Homo sapiens: one gene and its partners. The protein of the gene in region 3 purifies or fractionates together with the protein of the main gene of each other region. This does not show direct contact. Each region holds a gene or a part of one and is shown on either strand. Other genes may lie near its edges.

Region 1 (7,108 bases), on a different chromosome or scaffold from region 3:
AGGCGGGGGGAGAATCACCTACATGTCCAGTGGGAAGGGGGTGGCTAGATACTTGATACTGTATGAACTTAATGGAATGCTCTGTATATGGAATGCCAGGGGATGGGAAGAGAAGAGAAAAATCGCTTTGTTTTATTTTTTGGGATGGAGTCTCGCTATGTCGCTCGGGATGGAGTCTCGCTATGTCGCTCAGGCTGGAGTGCAGTAGCACCGTACTGGCTCACTGCAACCTCCACCTCCTGAGTTCAAGCGAATTTCCTGCTTCAGCCTCCGAAGTAGCTGAGATTACCGGCGCATGTCACCACACCCAGCAAATTTTTGTATTTTTATTGGAGATGGGGTTTCATCATGTTGGCCAGGCTGTTCTCAAACTCCTGATGACAAGTGATCTGCCTGTCTTGGCCTCCCAAAGTTCTGGAATTACCAGCAGGTGTGAGCCACCGCGCCCGGCCTTTTTTTTTTTTTTTTTTTTTTTTTTTTTTTTAAGCAAGCCCCCAACACCATAGAAAATTCTTGATTTGCTCGGAGGATAATTGGATGAAGGATTATTTTCTTCTTTGTTTATGTGCAAGAAATGAAAATAAGGAATTGCTTTGATCAGACAACTTCTTATCTTTGTGGTAGAAACAGAACTGCCCTTCTTGGAGTGGCTCTGCCTCTGAGATCACTACAGGGGAGACAGCATGCCCTGTTCAGCTGGCTGAATATTTGGCAACAATCTCCTGAAGCAGCTGGAATTGACAAGAAGTACTGGAGATTAGCTCGGGCCAAACCCTTACATCTGGCCTGACTACTGCTGCAGTCTGCCTCAACTTACCCCTAAAGCTGGGGAGATGCCACCCACCCACATCTTTGCTACACATGCCATCATGAGCTAGAGTTCACCCTTTCTCCTTAAAGCCCTATTTACTTTTCTACTTCAACTTTAAAACAAAATTAAAATGTGAGGATATCCCTGAATTTTAAAAAGCATGAAGTAAAAATGCAAATTAGTATAGTTTGTTTAATACATTACATATAGACCTAAAGAAAGTTCATCAGGGTTAATCATTTGTCACATCATTCTATACCCAGGGCTATCAGCTATCAATTTTCCTTTTTTTTTTTTTTTTAATTCAGGATCCAGCTCTGTCACCCAGGCTGGAGTGCAGTATCAAAGTATCATTTCTCTTACTTCAAATTATTACATTTTATTCTGTACATTGATTCTGAACTCCTAATATAATATTTATGTCCTGTATTTGCAGGCCATTGGTTTTTTTAAAGTCATAAATCAAAATGATGCCAGAAAATCAAAGATGCCCAAGATGTTGGGCTTCTCTTTTGCCAGCCACATTGGTAGCACTCTCCTGCCCTGGCCTCCAAGCTGGTGGGGATCTGTGATGTTTGTGAAAATGGGCTTATGCCAGGCGCAGTGGCTCACGCCTATAATCCCAGCACTTTGGGAGGCCGAGGCGGGCAGATCGGTTCAGGTCAGGAGATCGAGACCAGCCTGGCCAACATGGTGAAACCCCATCTCTACTAAAAATACAAAAAATTAGCCAGGTGTGGTGGCACATGCCTGTAATCCCAGCTACTCAGGAGGCTGAGGCAGGAGAATCACTTGAAACCTGGGAGGCGGAGGTTGCAGTGAGCAGAGATCGTGCCATTACACTCCAGCCTGGGCTACAGAGTGAGACTCTGTGTCAAAAAAAAAAAAGAAAGAAAATGGGCTTGTGTGGTAGCAGGTAAGAAATTGAATCTCTGTTGTACAGCAGCTAGCTGTACTGCATGATCACTTCCCATTCCCCAGCTGACAGTGGCTGTCTCTGGAACTCCTACCACAGTCTTCAATTGGTAGGCCAGCCCTGGTGCCAGTGATTTTATCTGGGCATGGAAAATGCCACTTGCTTCTGTGGAAGAGACACTTAAAAGATCTGGCAGTCGGCCGGGTGCGGTGGCTCACGCCTATAATCCCAACACTCTGGGAGGTCAAGGCAGGCGGATCACGAGGTCAGGAGATGGAGACCATCCTGGCTAACACGGTGAAACCCTGTCTCTACTAAAAAAAAAAATAAAAAATTAGCTGGGCGAGGTGGCGGGCGCCTGTAGTCCCAGCTACTCTGGAGGCTGAGGCAGGAGAATGGCGTGAACCCAGGAGGCGGAGCTTGCAGTGATCCGAGATCACACCACTGCACTGCAGTCTGGGCAACAGAGCGAGACTCCATCTCAAAAAAAAAAAAAAAAAAAAAAGATCTCGCAATCATCCTGTCAAGCTTGATTCCTCCGATCTTGGGCCAAGGGCCCCTCCTTTCTTTTGTGCTACTGAAATAGAAGCAAACCTGTGTTTAGAGTTCCCTTTTCTGTCTCATTTACCTGCATCTCTCATTGATTGGTCTTAGTGGAGGGATTTGCCAGCAGCTGCCACGTTGAACTTGATCCTTTTAGTGGCTCACTAATCCCACCTCTATTCTGGATTGTAGCTAGTCCTGCATGTTTATGGCACTATAGGTTTCAAAGCTCTTTCATACCCATTTATTCACTTGATAATTTTTCTCTTGTGTGTTTCAACCCAAAGTAATCAAGTAGATCCCTTCACATTGTCTTTTCTAAGGCAGTCCAGTACCTCTTAGGTGGCTGTGTGTCAGAAGGAACTTTTTCCTCTTGATTACTTTCTGCTCAAAGCTGAACATCACTTTGCTGGTTGGATGCAAGTGCCATGCGACCTCTCTTTTTATTTCCTTGAGGACTTGTTAGCTAATTTTCTCTCACTGCTAGATTAAGGGCTCCTGTTTCTGAAGCATCTTACCAGAAGTGTGTGTCTCTTGCTTGAGCCATGCCTCTTGCCCTAGAGTGATCCTGAGAACCACTGCTATTTATGTCTTAGTGCTGTATTGCCTTGTATTTCCTTCTCAGTTACATGGACACAGAACAGTATGAAGAAGCAGTACGAGACTATGAAAAAGTATACCAGACAGAGAAAACAAAAGGTAAGTTTAAAAGCATTTGTTTTTTAGGGAACTGTGTGGACTTCGTAGGCCATAAATCTGTACACAAGGTAGTTTGATTCAGGGATCAGGGATCTACCTAGAACTTATTTGATCACCAGCCAGAAAGAAGTGAACAAAGGCTGGGCGTGGTGGCTCACGCCTGTAATCCCCAGCACTTTGGGAGGCTGAGGCAGGCAGATCACCTGAGATCAGGAGTTGGAGACCAGACTGGCCAACATGGTGAAACCCCATCTCTACTGAAAATACAAAAAATTGTGGGTATGGTGGTATACGCCTGTAATCCCAGCCACTCAGGAGGCTGGGGCACGAGAATTCCTTGAACCCAGGAGGCGGAGGTTGCAGTGAGCTAAGATTGCGCGACTATACTCCAGCCTGGGTGACGGAGCGAGACTTCATCTCAAAAACAAAAACAAAAAAAAGAAAAAAAAAGTGAACAGATATCTTGGGTTGGGGCATGAGGCACCTATTTTCTGGTTCCAGATCCTCCCTGTCGTTTTCATTTCATTTTTTGTGTGGTGAGGCTAAAGTGAGGAACCTAAGTCTGGGTAGATTTTCTTTTTTCTTTTTCTTTTTTTTTTTTTTAAGATGGAGTCCTGCTCTGTCACCCAGGCTGGAGTGCAATGGCATGATCATAGCTCACTACAACCTTTGCCTCCCAGGTTCAAACAATTATCCTGCCTCAGCCTCCCGAATAACTGGGATTACAGGCACATGGTACCACGCCTGGCTAATTTTTTGTATTTTTAGTAGGGATGGGGTTTCACCATGTTGGACAGGCTAGTCCCGAACTCCTGACCTCGGGTGATCCATTCTGTCAAGCTTGATTCCTCCCATCTTGGGCCAAGGGCCCCTCCTTTCTTTCGTGCTACCGAAATAGAAGCAAACCTGTGTTTAGAGTTCCCTTTTCTGTCTCATTTACCTGCATCTCTCATTGATGCAGGCCTCCCAAAGTGCTGCGATTACAGGCATGAGTCACCGTGCCTGGCCGAGTAGATTTTTTTTCTAATCTCCAGAAGAAAGCACCGTAAAAGTCCCTGGCATGGTTAACAAGGCCTCTAACTCCCAGGCAGCTGGGCTGAGACCTGGTGAGGAAAAAACCAGAGTCAGATTTGTCCACTGATGCCAGATGTCTTCCTGTAGAACACAAACAGCTCCTAAAAAATGCGCAGCTGGAACTGAAGAAGAGTAAGAGGAAAGATTACTACAAGATTCTAGGAGTGGACAAGAATGCCTCTGAGGACGAGATCAAGAAAGCTTATCGGAAACGGGCCTTGATGCACCATCCAGGTAGAGTAGGTGCGGGGAGTGGGCTCAGTGGGAAGAACCCGCAGGGCAGGCCAACTGCCACACTCAGTCCAGAGGGGACCCCTTGGAGAGGTCCTTCAGCTGAGAATAAGGTGTTGCAGACTTGTGGACCCTCCAAATTTTGGGAAGTGCCAAATTCCAAAATTAGACAGAAAGTAGTTTTTCTCTTAAACTTTGTTTTCTTGAAACTTTGATTTCCACTGAGTTGTTCTTTTACTCCCCACTTTAGATCGGCATAGTGGAGCCAGTGCTGAGGTTCAGAAGGAGGAGGAGAAGAAGTTCAAGGAAGTTGGAGAGGCCTTTACTATCCTCTCTGATCCCAAGAAAAAGACTCGCTATGACAGTGGACAGGACCTAGATGAGGAGGGCATGAATATGGGTGGTGAGTTGGCTGGGGCAGCCTGGGATGAATTTGACAGCTGTAGAATGTTAGAATTTTTTCCAAAGATGCTCCAGAGGGAGAGTCTATTTGGGCCAAATCTGATCCCTGGTCCAAACAGTAATAGACATGGAGTCAAACAAATGCAGTCAAATGTGGCAGGTTCACAGTGTGCAGTGAGCTCTGAGGAGGCGAGCACTAGCAAGGGAAGGCTTGGAAGTGCAGAAAAGCATGGCCCCATGGGTCATGCCTGTAATCCCAGCACTTTGGGAGGCCAAGGCAAGCAGATCACTTGAGGTCAGGAGTTTGAGACCAGCCTGGCCAACATGGTGAAACCCTGTCTCTACTAAAAATACAAAAATTAGGCTGGGCGCGGTGGCTCATGCCTGTAATCTCACCACTTTGTGAGGTCAAAGCAGGTTGATCACCAGGTCAGGAGTTTGAGACCAGCCTGGCCAACATGGTGAAACCTCGTCTCTACTAAAATACAGAAATTAGCCAGGTGTGGTGGTGGGCGCCTGTAATCCCAGCTACTCGGGAGGCCGAGGCATGAGAATCGCTTGCACCCAGGAGGCGGAGGTTGCAGTGAGCCGAGATTGTCCCACTGTACTCCATCCTGGGCGACAGAGCAAGACTTTGTCTCAATTAAAAAAAATAATAAGAAGAAAGAAAAAAGAAAAATTAGCCAGGTGTGGTGGTGCACACCTGTAATCCCAGCTACTTGAACCCGGGAGGTGGAGGTTGCAGTGAGCCAAGATGGCGCTACTGCACTCCAGCCTGGGCAACAGAGTGAGACTCCATCCCTCCCCACTAAAAAAGCAAAGCATGGCCTCTTTGGGGATCTGCAGGGGGCTTGGTCTAGGGAAGATAAAGGGATAGGGTGCTAGAGGCAGGTGGTGGTGGAAGGCCGGCAAGTAGCTGGATCAGAGCTCACAGGCCATAAGGGCTGTATGTGGTAAGGAATATGAGCATTTTCCTATTATCTGGAAGTTCTTTTTTACCCACTGCAAAGTGTATGCTGACATTTATGTATGTCATACATTCCTATAAACACTCACAGATTTTAATTTCCCAAAAAGATTTAGCATGATATAAAGCACACCTATTGTCAATATTGTTGCTCACTGTGGGCTGTCAGAGATAAGAGGCCCTGACCTGTGAGCTGGGCGCGGTGGCTTACGCCTGTAATCCCAGCACTTTGGGAAGCCAAGGCGGGCAGATCACCTGAGCTCAGGAGTTCAAGACCACCCTGGGCAACATACAAAATACCAAAAAAATTGTACTCTCTACTAAAATACAAAAAAATTAGCTGAGCATGGTGGTGCATGCCTGTGGTCCAAGCTACTCAGGAGACTGAGGCACCAAAAACTCTTGAGCCCAGGAGGCAGAGGTTGCAGTGAGCTGAGATTGCGCCACTGTACTCCAGCTTGGGTTACAGAGTGCGACTCCATCTCAAAAATTAATTAATTAATTCAGTCAGTCTTCACTCTAAGTTGTCTGCCAAAAAATTTGCTGGGCATGGTGGCTCACGCCTGTAATCCCATCACTTTGGGAGAACAAGGTGGGCGGACCACAAGGTCAAGAGATTGAGACCATCCTGCCCAACATGGTGAAACCCCGTCTCTATGAAAAATACAAAAATTAGCTAGCCATGGTGGCGCACGCCTGTAGTCCCAGCTACTTGGGAGGCTGAGGCAGGAGAATCGCTTGAACTCGGGAGGCGGAGGTTGCAATGAGCTGAGATCGCACCACTGCACTCCAGCCTGGCGACAGAGCAAGACTTGTCTCAAAAAAAAAAAAAAAAAGAGGACCTGACCTGTGAATGGTGAACAGACCTACCATCTCTTCCACTAAGAAAATCTATTGGGATTTTGTTTTTTGTTTTGTTTTGTTTTTTGAGACGGAGTCTTGCTGTGTCACCCAGGCTGGAGTGCAGTGGCACCATCTCGACTCACTGCAACCTCCGCCTCCAGGGTTCAAGTGATTCTTCTGCCTCAGCCTCCCGAGTAGCTGGGACTACAGGTGTGCGCCACCACGCCCAGCTAATTTTTGTATTTTAAGTAGAGACGGGGTTTTACCATATTGGCCAGGCTGATCTGGAACTCCTGACTTCGTGATCCACCCACCTCGGCCTCCCAAAGGGCTGGAATTACAGGCGTGAGCCACCGCGCCCGGCCTTTTTTTTTTTTTTTTTTTTTTTAAGACTGAGCCCAGTCTGGGTGCAGTAGTGCCATCTTGGCTCACTGCAACCTCTGCCTCCAGGGTTCAAGCAATTCTCCTGCCTCAGCCTCCTGAGCAGCTGGGATTACAGGCATCCACCCCCATGCCTAGCTAATTTTTATATTTTTAGTAGAGACAGGGTTTCACCATGTTGGCCGGGCTGGTCTTGAACTCCTGACCGCAAGTGATCTACTGGCCTTGGCCTCCCAAAGTG
Region 2 (7,141 bases), on a different chromosome or scaffold from region 3:
GTATTTCTAGTAGAGACGGGGTTTCACCGTGTTAGCCAGGATGGTCTCGATCTCCTGACCTCGTGATCCACCCACCTTGGCCTCCCAAAGTGCTGGGATTACGCGCATAAGCCACCACGCCTGGCCTTTATGTATATTATGTATATATTATATATATATTACAGTGGTAATGAGGTGTGTGTATATATATACACATATATGTGGAAAACATATATATTCATATTCATATCTCATATTATCACAATAGACATATCTTCTCCACTATTTTTCCCACACTAATTGTTAGATGGCTAAATTTATTGGGTCAATTTCTCTGCTTACTATACCACTGCAATTATATAAGCAAACTGAACCTTTGGAAAATGCTAATTAATAAGGCAGGGTTTGACACGACTGGGTTTGAAAGGCCAGCAGTGGGGCTAGAAATACCTACCACATACAACTGTGCTGCCCCATCACTGAATAATCTACTTTAAGCACTGAAAGAAATTCAGAGATTATTCAGTGATCCAAGTCCCACAATTTTTTCTTTCCAGAGTACCAACAATCATCAAATTATGTGGTCCTGACACCCTCATAACAAGAACCATCAGTACCTTCTTCTGTATCCCCCCAAAATATTTTAACCTGCATCACTTACTCTATACATTCAAACCTAGTTAAAGCAGAAAGCAAAACTATTTTCTGACTGCCTCAATGATATATCTGGAGTTGTCTAAGTAATGGATTACACAGTTCCCAATTACTTGTGAACAGTATCAATGGTCTTCAAAAATACTACAGTTCCTATACCCCCCGTCCCAGTCCATATCCACCTCCTCTCCATCCCAACCCTTCACAGTTACACAAGCATACTAAATCAAAGCAAAGGAATTGAACACCAATATAAGCCTGGCAGAAATCTGAAATCACTGCCGCCTCAAACTTTAGATCACTGCAGCGCTCAGGTGTACTGTGACTCAGCATTTTACAGTGCCTGAGACATGAAATGAGATAAAGGTCCTTTTCCCTTCACAGCATTGGCTAAACATGAAGCCAAAATAAATATGCTACCTCAAAACAGTTAGTGGCTGGAACATTACAGTGCTCACACTGACACAGGTTTATCTCAGTCTGTGATCCTTGGGAGGAGACCCTGTGTCAGTTTAAGCACACAAAGTTCTTCTGAAATAACTCGAGCTATAAAATTAGCAAATTATGCTGACTACAATTAATACCCAGAAATGGAGAAAATATTGCAAAGAAATGAAAATGAAATTCAAAAATAGTTACTGTGGTTACTGGTCTAGTCAGGTAAAAAACTAAAATAAAATAACAAGAACAAAAGAGGGAATTTACCCAGCTACTCTTCATTACAATATCAGAAGCTAAAATGGCATCAAGAGAGAATTTTTTCCTCTTGCAAAAAAAAAAACTGAGTAAAACTGAAACAAATAGGAAACTCCAGCCCTTTTAAACTGTTCATGGGCAGAAGGAAAATAAGATAAAACAATATGAAACAAATAAGATAAATTAATATGAAGGTTGCAACAAAGACAGATTTTCAGTTCATATTCTTACGTGGAGCAGGAACTAACAGAGAAATGAGACGAGAGAAAATGATAACTGACAAGCAAGGAGATTTGGGAAGATGAGGTCATGAAAAGGGACGGAGGGGCATTCCCCATAGGTAATGGAAGAAGTCAGGGAATCCCAGTAGAAAAGCCAGAAATTTAAATGAGCAAAGACAACGTAAGCATATGGGCCAAGAACAATAGTTTATACTTAATTTCTTTTAGCTTCTTAGTAATTTTTTAAATTTTAATTATTTATTATTATTTTGAGACAGGGTCTCACTCTGTCACCCAGGCTGGAGTGCAGTGGTGTGATCTTGGCTCACTGCAACCCCCACCTCCTGGGCTCAAGGGATTCTCCCACCTCAGCCTCCCGAGTAGCTGGGACTACAGGCGTGCGCAACCACCCCCAGCTAATTTTTGTGTTTTTAATAGAGACGGGGTCTTGCCATGTTGACCAGGCTGGTCTCGAACTCCTGACCTCAAGTGATCAGGACTTGAGGCAGGAGTGATCCCGCCTCAGCCTCCCAAAGTTCTGGGATTACAGGCCACTGCGCCCAGCCCTAAGTAATAGAAATGTATAACTCTTTTAAACCAATGATATAAAAAATAACAAGCCCCATCTTACACCTGAGGAAACCTCAGAAAAGTTAAGTAACTTGCTGAAGGTCACATTGTTCCTAAATGGCAGAGTCAGACTACCAACCTACACAGTCTAACCTCGCCATAACTTTACACCGTCTCTTACGAACATCTCAAAATGTGAAAAGTAGAGAATTGGATTTTACAGCCGTGCATGAGGATGACGTCAGCATTTACACGGCAATGGCGGTTGGCAGAGGCAGTGGCTCAGGCCTGCAATCCCAGCACTTTGGGAGGCCAAGGTGGGTGGATGATTTGAGATCAGGAGTTCGAGACCAGCCTGGTCAACATGGTGAAGCTCCACCTCTACTAAAAATACAAAAATTAGCCGGGCATGGTGGTGGGCGCCTGTAATCCCAGCTACTCGAGAGGCTGAGGTGGGAGAATCACTTGAAGCCGGGAGGTGGAGGTTGCAGCGAGCTGAGATGGCGCCACTGCACTCCAGCCTGAGCGACATAACGAGACGCTGTTTCAAGTAAAAAAAAAAAAAAAAAAAAAAAAACAAAAGAGTTCGAGATCCTACCACAAAAGGTACAAACGAAGGGTGGTGGGAACTCGAATGAGATAGCAGTGTTCACCAGTGCCCAGTAAAGGAAGACTTCACAGAGGGAGCAGGATTTCAGATGGGATTTGAGGAAAAGGGTTTAAGGACTATTAATGACTTATCACTGATTACTCTTAGGGTTTTCAAGCTAAATTTCAGAGTCCTTGTCATGGAATTCAGGCCCTCCACAACTAGGTCAAAGGGAACGCCAAGGAAGAAACATTATCCTGAGTGAGATGCTTATGCTGAAGTCTTTGCTATCAGTTCAGGTTCCAAGGGATCAGAAAACCTTACTTTTCTGTCTCCATAAACCGTAAATGGGTTGAAGGCAGGCACTTTTGTAACACTCCTCTCCCCGGACCAGGCCTCTGTACATCATAGCACTTGGTAGATGCACAGCATACTTTCTGAGCGAAACTAAAACGAATGTAAATCAAGTCACCTGGTGGCCAGACTTGCCTTACACCATCTAAACCTCTGGTGTTAGCTAATTTTAAAGCTATCAAGTAAGAGGCTTAAACACGTGGTCCAGATGCAACATGTGGACCTTGGTTTGGACCCGGATGCCACAAACCAATTGTAAAAGGACATGAGATCATCTGAAAAACCTAAATATGGACTGGGAATTAGATTAAGGAATTGTTAATTTCATTAGATGAGATTACATCGTTATGCCTTTAAAAGTTGTCTCTTAGATATTAAATATATACACTTAGGGTATTTATGAATGAAACGGTTTCCCTTAAAACACTAGAAATGTATGGTGGAGCCAATGAAACAGGTAAAAGGTAGCTAACTGCACTATGGGGAGTAATATACTGCTTCTGCTAAATGTTTCAGAATTCTCATAATATAAAACACAACATACACACACACGCGCCCCCCAGTTTTTTTCATCGTAAGCCCCGAGGGAGCCAGACCCAGAGGGTCCACCGACGTCCCGGATTCTAATAACGACATCTGCGCGCCAGGCGGGCCTCCTGCGGGAGCCGGGGCCCATTTTCTTTCGAAGCTAACGAAGCTGCTGCGCAGGCCTGTTAATTCCCTCAGCAGCCAGTGCGAGGTTAAACACGCGACCTCGCAACCATGGCTTTTGAGAGGAAGCTGAATTCCTGGGGTGCGCCGTGCACAGTTCTTCATTTCCTACGTTGGCCCTGCCCAGCCGCCTGGACCTGGAGGAAAACAGAGAACCTGGCCCACTCTTCAATACTTCGACCCCAGTGGCCGCGCCTCGGGCGCTCGGGGGCGGGCTCTGCACAGCGACGTCACGGCGCACCGTGCGCTGGGTCAAAGTTCAGCCCCGCCCCCGCTTCCCCCTCGCTGTCTCCCTCGGCCTGTGCCGCCGCCGACGCCGCTTGTGGGCCCGACTCCGCTCTGTCTGCTTCGCCACCTTCTCCCCGAGCACTGCCCGGCCGGCCGCCATGGCTAACGTGGCTGACACGAAGCTGTACGACATCCTGGGCGTCCCGCCCGGCGCCAGCGAGAACGAGCTGAAGAAGGTATCTGGGAGCGGGCCGGGCGGGTGTGAGGGGCGCGGGGCCTGCGCGGCCAGGGATGTCTTCTTCAGCCAGGCCGCGCTACTGGGCTGCCCGCGAGCCGGCGCCGGCCGTGACTGGCCCGGGCTGGGAGTCGGCGGCGGCGGCGGGACCGGCCTCGCCGCGAGCCGCGCACTCCGGCCTCGGCTGACCTTGGGGCCGCCGGCCCCGCCCGCCCGCAGATGCAGCAAATAAAACTCACTCCTGCGCAAACACGATGGGAGCCCTTCCTTCCTCCCTCCTTGAACGAGCGCCGGGGGCTGGTATCCCCCGGGAGGCAGCAGCTCGCCCGGTCCTTCGCGTCGAGGTCACCACCCCGGAAAAACAGGTTGGACCGAGGTGCTCAGCGCATCCCGGCCCCGAGAGAGAAGCTGTCCGCCCCGCGGCCGTCGGCCCCGGGTCTGGTGCTCCGCGGGGAGGAACGGCGGGGAGGTCGAGGCCGCCCCCACAGAGCGCCTCGGGCGGATGGGGTTGTTTCCTGGGTTCCGCGGCCGCCGGCTGCGGGAGCTCCTCCCTCTCTGCGTCCCTCGCCCATTGACCCGGAGGTAGCTGGGTCTGTGTTTGGATGCATTGTTCTTTGGGCAGGTAATGCTAATGTCCTGTACCTGCTTAGGAATAAGCCGTGGTCCCAGCCAAACGCCTGAGTGTACAGTAAACATAAATAGAAGGCCTTATTATTGCTATTTGCAATGCTGCGATATCTTTCATCTCAGGATTTCAAAGCACACGAGGCATTTAAGCCCCACAGCATCCTCACCAGGCTAAGAGCATCCAGATTTGTAAGCCGAGAAAAATGAGAATGCTCCTTAGGCAGTGAGAAGAGTACAGTGGACTTCCTGTTACCTTACCGGAAATGCTAGTCTGTATTATATAATTCACGAGCCTCCGTGAATGAAGATTTAAGTGCTTTAGGACCCAAACACCTCGTTGAGAGTGTGTGCAACTTCTCTACCACCGAAGTTGCCACCACGACCCCAGTTAACCACCACGTGCAAATAAAACACCAAAAGACGCTAACTAGGACCACCTTTACTTTTTCATGATGTTACAGTTAGAAGGAAGGCGTGAGCCATCGGGAGCAGGAATTGTGACTTTAGCTTGATTTATAGTAATGTTTTGCAGTCCGCAAAGCTTAACAGTCATTTATCTCGAATTTATTAGGGTCGTCTTGGTCTGGTTACTTGGCCATCAAAGACACTTGACAATAGGGAAAATATGGATAATGTTTGAACGTTTTGTTTTTCCCTGTGGCATTGCTTCATTGTTTTATCTGGTTTTCACGTCACTGTAACCTGTTTTCAAGTATAGCTGCTGTCTACTTGGTTATATTACATTAGTAAACAGTATCGCGAGAAAGTGCCGAAGAATCCCTACGAATAGAAAATATTTTTGAAAGGTTATAACTCTAGAACATTACTTCTCAGAAAAGTGGATATTAAGTTATTACAAAACTTTTAACTGGTGTTTAGTTATAACCTTTTTTGTTTTTATCCATTTTCAAAGGCATACAGAAAGTTAGCCAAGGAATATCATCCTGATAAGAATCCAAATGCAGGAGACAAAGTAAGTTATTTGCACCTTTTTTATTCCGGGGGTTTTAGCTTTAACTTAAATTGCCCTCCTTGAAAAAGAGGAATGTTGCAGGAAAAAAATCCAACTATGCCCACACAGCCACATTTTCATAATGTCAAGAGTATTTTAGTTTTAGAATAAGAGTACTACCATTCTGAGGAGCGGTGGGTGGTAAATAGAACCAGAATCAAGTCAAAGGTAACTTGTCCCTTTTTTTTTTTTTTTAGAATTAAATGGATTCTGGATTCCTGTAGCTTCTCCCCACTCTTCTACTTGAAAATGCAATTATTTTTATTTTTACCTTTTCTTTATAGTTTAAAGAAATAAGTTTTGCATATGAAGTACTATCAAATCCTGAGAAGCGTGAGTTATATGACAGATACGGAGAGCAAGGTCTTCGGGAAGGCAGCGGCGGAGGTGGTGGCATGGATGATATTTTCTCTCACATTTTTGGTGGGGGATTGTTCGGCTTCATGGGCAATCAGAGTAGAAGTCGAAATGGCAGAAGAAGAGGAGAGGACATGATGCATCCACTCAAGTGAATATCTTGTTTTGTTGTTTTAAAAAATTAAGTACTTTTTGTCAAGTGGGATAATGACTCAGTAGATGAAAAATCTCATAGAGTGTTCTGTCCTTCATTAGAAAAACTTCCATTTGCCTTGTCTTCTTTTGGTGACTAAATTGAATTTGATTATCTGAATGTTTCTATTTCGCTGTAGCTCTTAAAAGGACAGTCGATATTTTTTAATGAGAGGAAGGTGGTTTTATATGGTTCTGAGGCTGCTTGTTATTATAGGACTTAAAATTTCAACTGTGAAGATCATTTTCTCTCTCTCTCTTTTTTTTTTTTTGAGACCGAGTTTCGCTCTTGTCCAGGATGGAGTGCAGTGGCACAATCTCAGCTCACTGCAACCTCTGCCTCCTGGGTTCAAGCGATTCTCCTGCCTCAGCCTCCCAAGTAGCTGGGATTACAGGCATATGCCAACACACCCGGCTAATTTTGTATTTTTAGAAGAGATGGGGTTTCTCCATGTTGGTCATGCTGGTCTCGAACTCCCAACCTCAGGTGATCTGCCTGCCTCGGCCTCCCAAAGTGCTGGGATTACAGGCGTGAGCCACTGTGCCCGACCTTTTTTTTTTTTTTTTTTTTTTTTTTGAAATGGAGTCCCTGTCGCCCGGGTTGGAGTGCAGTGGCACCATCTAGGCTCACTGCATCCCCCTCCTCTCAGGTTCAAGAAGTTCTCCTGCCTCAGCCCCCCAAGTAGCTGGGATTACAGGCACCCGCACCATGCCCG
Region 3 (7,108 bases):
TGGGCTCTAGCCTGAAGCTGAGTTGTATGGGGAAAACAGACTGACAGAGCCTAGCGGAAGGGAAACCTGGAAATTTCCCTAAAAGTCTTTCAAAGGTACACGTGCTTTGACCCAGCAATTTCATTTCTAGGAATTTATGCCAAGGCGCCAAGTTGGGACAGGTGCAAGGACCTAGCTAGAAAGATGCCTGCTATTTACAATAATACAAAAAAGCTATAAGCAGCAAACATGTCCAGTAGGACTGGTAAAGAAAGCTGTGGAACATCCACAAGACACAATAAAATGCAGCTGTAAATACAAGGCAGGTGGGGACCAGGCAGGAGGGAGGGGTGCTGGCTGTAAAAAGCACAACACCAGGGACCTTGTGGTGGTGGCAGTGTTCAGTGCCATGACTGTGGTGGGAGATTACACATGCCAACATGGGTGGGAAGATCACTCTAGAGCTATGCACACTGTTACCGTTGGGGGAAACTAGGCAAAGGGTTTAAGGGATCTCTGTATTATTTCCTACAATTTATGTGAGTCTACAATTACCCTAAATTTTGCCATGCAGAATAAGAACATTTACCATTTACTGACACAGAACGATGCTTTAGGAGATTGTTGAGTGAAAAGGCCAGATGACTAGTGTACAGCCAGCACTTCATAGACAGTGATGGGGCTGCCATAACCGAATGTGAGGTGAAATGAGAAGATAGCCATAAAGGAAGGGATGAGAAGTCTTGTTTACAGGCCAGGCTCAGGGAATACAGTAAATCTGAGGTTCCATCTATAGGTAGCAATACGTATACACATAAAAGTCATGAAAAGTATTTGCAGTGTGATTCCACTTTTGTTTAAAAATGTTCTTATAAAACCACATGCTCCTAATTGTATATTATGCATATATTATATATACACGTAGAAAAGCGCTAAGCAGATGTATTTCAACATGTTTAAGAGTGATTCTGTCCTGAGGATGGGATGCTGAAGGCTACAGTTTCTCGCTATGCACGTCTCTGTTTTATGGCAATTCTACAGTGAGCACCATCTGCCTGGGGTGCAGAAGGTGGAGGGGAGACCATCCTGCATTCGGGAGGTCAATCTCAGGCGCCTGTCTGTGGTTCTGCCCTCCCCCATTCTGTGGCTCCACCCTTCAGTGCCCCATTTCTGTTCTGGCCACCTCCTGGTTCAGAGAGCTTGTGCAGAGTCCCATGCTCCCTTATTGGCTCACAGACCTCAGCCCACACCCCCCACCCACTCATTCTCTCTCTCCCCTCTCTCTCACACACACATCACCACCATCACACACGTACTCACACACACACCCTGCCGGACTCCCGGCTTTGCTGCTCACTCCATTCGGCCCCACGCTGGGCTCTCTGCAAAACACACGCTGCTGACAACACTGCATACCCCTCCCATCCCTACAGAAAGGGGACAAGGAAGAAACTGATACTCAGGGAGGTTGAGCTGTTTGCCCCCAGTCACACAGGTTGCAAGGAGTGGAGACAGGGCGGCAGGTTCCAGGCCCAGACTGCCTCCCACGACCTCACAGCTGCCATTCTTCTCTCCTTGCTACTCTCTCCCCAAAGCACCAGCAAAGGGCCCAGCTTCCCTGGTCTTGTCAGCCTTGCCAGTGCTAAGAGTGGACAGGCACCCCCAGTTACCTGCGGCACCTCCACGGCAGAAATGGAGAAGACATGGAGGCAGAAGATCTTGGAGCCATTGTAGCCGACCACAAAGCCCTGCAGCTTCTGCCGGTGCACAGGGAAGGTGCTGGCTTTGATGTTGAGGTAGCCTCCTCCCGAGAAGCAGAGCATGTCCTCACACTGGGTGTTCCAAGCTACACTGTTGGCGTTTGGTTCCTGGGGAACAGGGACAGTGGGGATCCTGTGAGAACCACCCTGGGCTTGGTCAGCGCTCACACATTTCAGCCCAATACCCTCTTAAAGACTGAATCCCACTAAATTGCTTACAGTGGGATGGAGGGAAAAGGATGAAAGGGGACCACAAAGAAATGAACAGAGGCAAGAGAAATGAACAGAGGCAAGCCCCTCCATGCACCTGCGTGTTGTTGGAATTTTTGAGTAAGCAAGTATTACTTTTGAAAAAAAATTATTCTCCTGAAATATGCTCATACCTTTCTGCCTAGGATCTTTTATAATGACTAAATCTTTTATAATCAGCATGGATTGTTTTTTATAATGAGAAAAAATCAATATAGCTGTTTTATGTGTAGAGGGAGGGGCAGTGGAGAAGAGGAAAAGCCAGCAGGCAATGTTACAGCTGGGAATGCTGATGTCTCCTGGCAGGGCTGAGAATCACCTCCCCTAGCCTGCCATAGAGCCAGCAGTGGGGATGGGGCAGCACAGACGCCCTTCCACACTTGTATGATTCTAGGCTCAGACACAAGATTCACATTTGGGGCCAGCTATGCCCCCTATAGGTGGGAGGTGAGGCTGGGGAGAAGGGAAGTAACATTTCAGGCCCCATTTTGTGCTCAACACTGAGCTAGGCACTGTAGTATCTAGTGTATTCCTGTAGCAATTCTGTAAGGGGCAATTACTAATTTCATTTTAGAGAAAAGTAATTAAGGCTCAGAGAGGCTCACTAACTTAAGATCACACAGTAAGGGATGCAGGCAGGACCCAAGCCCAGGTCAGCTTGAAGGCTATGCCCTCTCTTTCCCCGAAACCATTCTACTCTCTCAAGGACATGAGTGAGTTGAGACTGACATGGAGTTACCTCTGGGCTAGAGGTGGCCAGGTAACTCCTTCTAATTGACTGAGGCTGCTCCCCACTCCAGACCCCTCCCCCATCGATTCTGCTGCTGAGAACAAGGAGGAGCCTGGTAAGGGGACTGAATCTGCCCATAACATCAGGAAACCCTGCAGTGGCCGAGGAAACCAGTCAGGAGGGGCTCCAGCTTTGGGGGGAACTTCACTCTGGAAAACCAGTCCTGACCACCTACAAAGACCTAAAGAGAGAAAGAATGGCGCGAGCCCAGCAGAAAGCCAACCAGGCCCGGGGCACAGAGCTGCCGGGCTGTCTTCTCTGGTGACACACTTCCTCAGGCCACAGGGCTGGATGACTCCACTGAACAACGCCTACAACCCCAAAGATCCAAGCACTTCGCATTCTGCTGGCTCTTCTAGCATTCTTGTGAATTAAGTAGAAGGCCAGGCTTGCCCATCCCCTTCCCCCTTTCAGATGACAAAACATCCTGTTTCCTTCCCACGCTGTAGGTGCGCATAGACACAGGCAGGCCTGCAGCAGGTGAGACACAGACTTCTGCAAAGGAAGTGCATCCATCGCCCCATTCACTGAGTGCCAACGTCACACCCCTCTCAGAGTCATTGCCCCATTTCTTGTTCATGGTAAACGCTTAAGAAAGGCTCTGCTGGCTCAGAGCCTTCGGTTTCCATTGGCAAGGAAACCAAAGTTAAAGAGGCCGGTCCAGGCCCTGCGGCTTGTGCCTGTGTGGGAGGAGCAGGTTGTGGCCCAGGGCCTCTGGGACTCTGTGCATGTGCTTGGCCCCTGCCCCTCCCAGAGACCTGCCTGGGCCAGAGCAGGAGAGCCTCCTGCAGGGACTGGGAAGCTAGAGGAGAGTCTCTAATCAAAGGATGATGTCCCTGGGCCCCCTCAGGGACTTCACCTGAAAAAGCAGCTCCTTGGTGTCGATGTCATACACCAGGCAAGTGTCATTTTCATCTACCACGGCCAGCTTCTTACGGGAGGCACTCATGTCCAAGCAGCGCACAGCTGTGGCCTGCTTCAGCAGGACGATAGCAAAGAGATTGTCCACGAAGATCTTCAGGATCTGGCAAAATTTCAGCGAAAACAGTGTCAGTCACCATGGCAACAAGATCCTGGCCCACTGCCAGGCCGTTGGAATCCCATGTGCTCTGCAAGAACAACTCCCACCACCTTCACCAGAAGCTCTGTGCAGGGAAAAGGACTCATCAAAAGAAAGAGGGGGGTGGGGGGCAATGGCTTATCCTTAGGAGGCCAGAAGCGAGGTTCATCAGAGGCTGCAGAAGTAATGACAGCCCTGAGACAGGCCGAGCTCACTTCAGTGTCTGTTCGGACTGGGGATTTGTTGATGACATTACCCAAACTGCAGCTTTAGGAGATGCCACCTAGCAGAGATCTGAGTCACGAACTAACACAGGAAAAAGCTACTATGAACACTGACAAGACATGTGGTAGAAAATTATAATAATGATGATAGTGATCATGATAGCTATCATTTACTGATATCCCTGGTTTAAAAAAAATTTTTTTTAGAGATAAGGTCTTGCTATGTTGCCCAGGCTGATCGCAGTGGCTATTCACAGGTATAATCATATCACACTGCAGCCTCAAACTCCTGGGCTCAAAGTGATCCTCCTATCTCAGCCTCCTGAGTAGCTGGGAAAACAGGTACCCTCCACCATGCCTGTTTTAATACCCCTGGTGTTTTTTTTGTTTTGTTTTGTTTTTAACATTGGCTTTAACTCCCAACCCTGATGATATCTGTTTTTGACAGCCCTATGAAATATGTGGTATTATCCTCATGTAAAACCAGCCTCACAGAGGTAAAGTGACCTGCCCAGGATGACAAAGCCAGTGAGTAGCTAAGTAAGAACACGACCTCCGGCCCACCTGACCCCATAGTCCATGCTCCCATTGGAAGTGAGAGCTGCCTGAGAAATAAGCGGCCCTTCCTCCCCTTGGCATTGCTGCTTGACTTCACCCACTGCTCTCATGCCCTGTGACTTCCATCCCCAGCAAAGACCTGACAAGCCTCAGCCATAAGCCATCTGCTGCACAGCTTGGCTGTCAGGCTAATGCAGCTACATTGTCACTTTCAAAGTTCCATGTAGCAGCCTACTTAGAACTTTTCTTATGCTGAGCAAAGAACACACGTGTACACATGTATACACACACACAGAATTTTGTGTAACCTGGATATCCCACATCTAACTGGCCAAAGGGCCCATTTTGCTTATGACATCTATCAGTATCTTGAGGACCCAGCATTCTTTAGGACACATGCTGGAACGCACTGCCTTAATCCACTCGCTGCCCTAATCAGGAGCTGACCTAGGTAACGATCTCTGCCTCCCTCTAGAAATCCACAGAAGCAACATCTCTAACAAATCTCCCACCTTCTGGAGACCTTAAGCCACTAATACACTCTACATGTAGCCAAAGGTTATAGCTCAACTCTGCCAAAACGTGGGCCTGCTAGGAGTGTGAGGGCCACAGCACCTTTGGCCTGAGGCTGTCCTCAAAAAACTGAACTCAGGCTGCCCCACAATTCACCCATGGAGGAGAGAAGCCCTTTTCCTGCCCTGAGAACCCAGCTCAGAGTCATTGCTAGACGGGTCACCCACGTGTGCATGCAGATTATCAGCCTGACAGGAGACGTGAGGGAGCACTCACCTGTCCATTCTTCAGCCCCACTAAGAGGCCTTCTCTTCCAGGAGGGCCACCGATCACCTTGATGTAACGAATGAGAGACTCCATCTGCCACTCCCGCTCCTTCACTCCGCTGAAGGACAGGCACTGCAGCCGTTTCTCCTAGGAAGCAAACCCAGCTCTGCATGGAAATTCAACAGAATAAGTGCCCCCAGACCTCCCCAAGGAGATCTTTCTGTCCCTAAGGGGAGAAAATACCTACACATTCAGTATCCATCTATCTAACCCAATGTAGACCCCACGATTGGCATCGTTAATCCAAGACTCCATGCAAGGCTTCCCCACGGAGCCCAATTCAGCCTCAGATCTTCAATGCAAACCCCCACCCAGGCAGCCTAGGCCAGAGGCAGCACTCAAAAGTACACATACTTGCCACATCTATCCTGTAATTTGTAGCAACCCTAAACCGCTTGGAGTTCTAACTTTGATTATTTATTTATTATTTGTTTTTGAGACAGAGTCTCACTCTGTCACCCAGGCTGGAGTGTAGTGGCGCTATCATAGCTCACTGCTGCCTCCAATTTCTGGCTAAAGCAATTCTCCTGCCTCAGCCTCCCAAGTAGCTGGGACTACAGGCAAGCGCCACCACACCCAGCTAATTAAATAATTTTTTTTTTTTTTTTTTTTTTTTGGTGGAGATGGGGTCTCTGTTTTCTAGACTGCTTTCGAACTACTAGCCTCAAGCAATCATCCTGCCTTGGCCTCCCAAAGTGCTGGGATTTACAGGCATGAGCCACTGCACCCAGCCCAGTTCTAGGCTTTTGAGAGATTTTAATAGTATTTTACACTACAGTGATTCCTAAGGAATTCTTCTCTTTTATCACCTCCAACAGAACTATGTAAAACTAAATCCACCTCTACTTCCAAGATGCTGGGCTAGCCTTCTCTCAAAGTCTTTCCAAACTTCTCTTGGCATTGACTTAGACACTCTCTAAGAATCTTGAGAAATATTTTTCTATGAAAAAAAATCTTTCAGGAATTAAAACTTCCTTGACAATTACTGAGTTGATACAAATTTTATGTGTATATGCTTATCAATAAAAACTATCTTCATTCTGTACACCAATTTATGTTTTAAGTCATTAAAGTATATCTAATCCCAGTATGACAAGATGTTCTGCAATAGAACAAGGTATTCTTGGCTAGACACAGTGGCTCACACCTATAATCCCAGTACTTTAGGAAGCTGGACAGGTCTCAAACTCCTGGGTTCAAGCATTCCTCCCGCCTTAGCCTCCCAAAGTACAGCCTCGCGTCTCTACTAAAAATAAAAAATTAGTTGGGTGTGGTGGCATGTGCCTGTGGTGCCAGCTACTCAGGAGGAAGACCGCTTGAGCTTGGGAGGTCAAAGCTGCAGTGAGCCATAATTGTGCCACTGCATTCCAGCCTGGGCAACAGAGCAAGACCCTGTCTGTCTCAAGAAAAATATTTTTTAAAAAATAATAAAATAAAACAAAAAAACATTCTCCAGTTTATGGCTCATGACTTGCTGATAGAGTCTGGTTCATCCAGATGCCAGGAAAATGAAAGCCAATAAGCACCACTTAGTTTGATGGAACAGACTTGTTTTCTAGTGACCAGTTTTAAAACCATGAGGTGGGCACCCTATCACTGGGGGGGGAGCACAAATGGAATTCAGCCCAACTCCTTCAACATGCTGCTG

The links.
Region 1: the proteins of IFT122 (region 3) and DNAJC7 purify together in Homo sapiens (co-immunoprecipitation; 4 studies listed by BioGRID and IntAct, with this or other methods). This does not show direct contact.
Region 2: the proteins of IFT122 (region 3) and DNAJA2 purify together in Homo sapiens (co-immunoprecipitation; 2 studies listed by BioGRID and IntAct, with this or other methods). This does not show direct contact.

What each region holds. Positions count from the first base shown.
Region 1 is NC_000017.11:41,979,424-41,986,531, reverse strand, and holds part of DNAJC7 (dnaJ homolog subfamily C member 7), read left to right. Parts: intron 1-624; exon of another isoform or gene 625-2,895; coding exon 2,896-2,969; intron 2,970-4,130; coding exon 4,131-4,277; intron 4,278-4,524; coding exon 4,525-4,677; intron 4,678-7,108. UniProt on the Homo sapiens protein: Acts as a co-chaperone regulating the molecular chaperones HSP70 and HSP90 in folding of steroid receptors, such as the glucocorticoid receptor and the progesterone receptor.
Region 2 is NC_000016.10:46,970,592-46,977,732, reverse strand, and holds the start of DNAJA2 (dnaJ homolog subfamily A member 2), read left to right. Parts: upstream 1-4,058; 5' UTR 4,059-4,160; coding exon 4,161-4,238; intron 4,239-5,777; coding exon 5,778-5,837; intron 5,838-6,160; coding exon 6,161-6,384; intron 6,385-7,141. UniProt on the Homo sapiens protein: Co-chaperone of Hsc70. Stimulates ATP hydrolysis and the folding of unfolded proteins mediated by HSPA1A/B (in vitro).
Region 3 is NC_000003.12:129,478,224-129,485,331, reverse strand, and holds part of IFT122 (intraflagellar transport protein 122 homolog), read right to left. Parts: intron 5,567-7,108; exon of another isoform or gene 5,548-5,566; coding exon 5,410-5,547; intron 3,803-5,409; coding exon 3,638-3,802; intron 1,848-3,637; coding exon 1,650-1,847; intron 1-1,649. UniProt on the Homo sapiens protein: As a component of the IFT complex A (IFT-A), a complex required for retrograde ciliary transport and entry into cilia of G protein-coupled receptors (GPCRs), it is required in ciliogenesis and ciliary protein trafficking.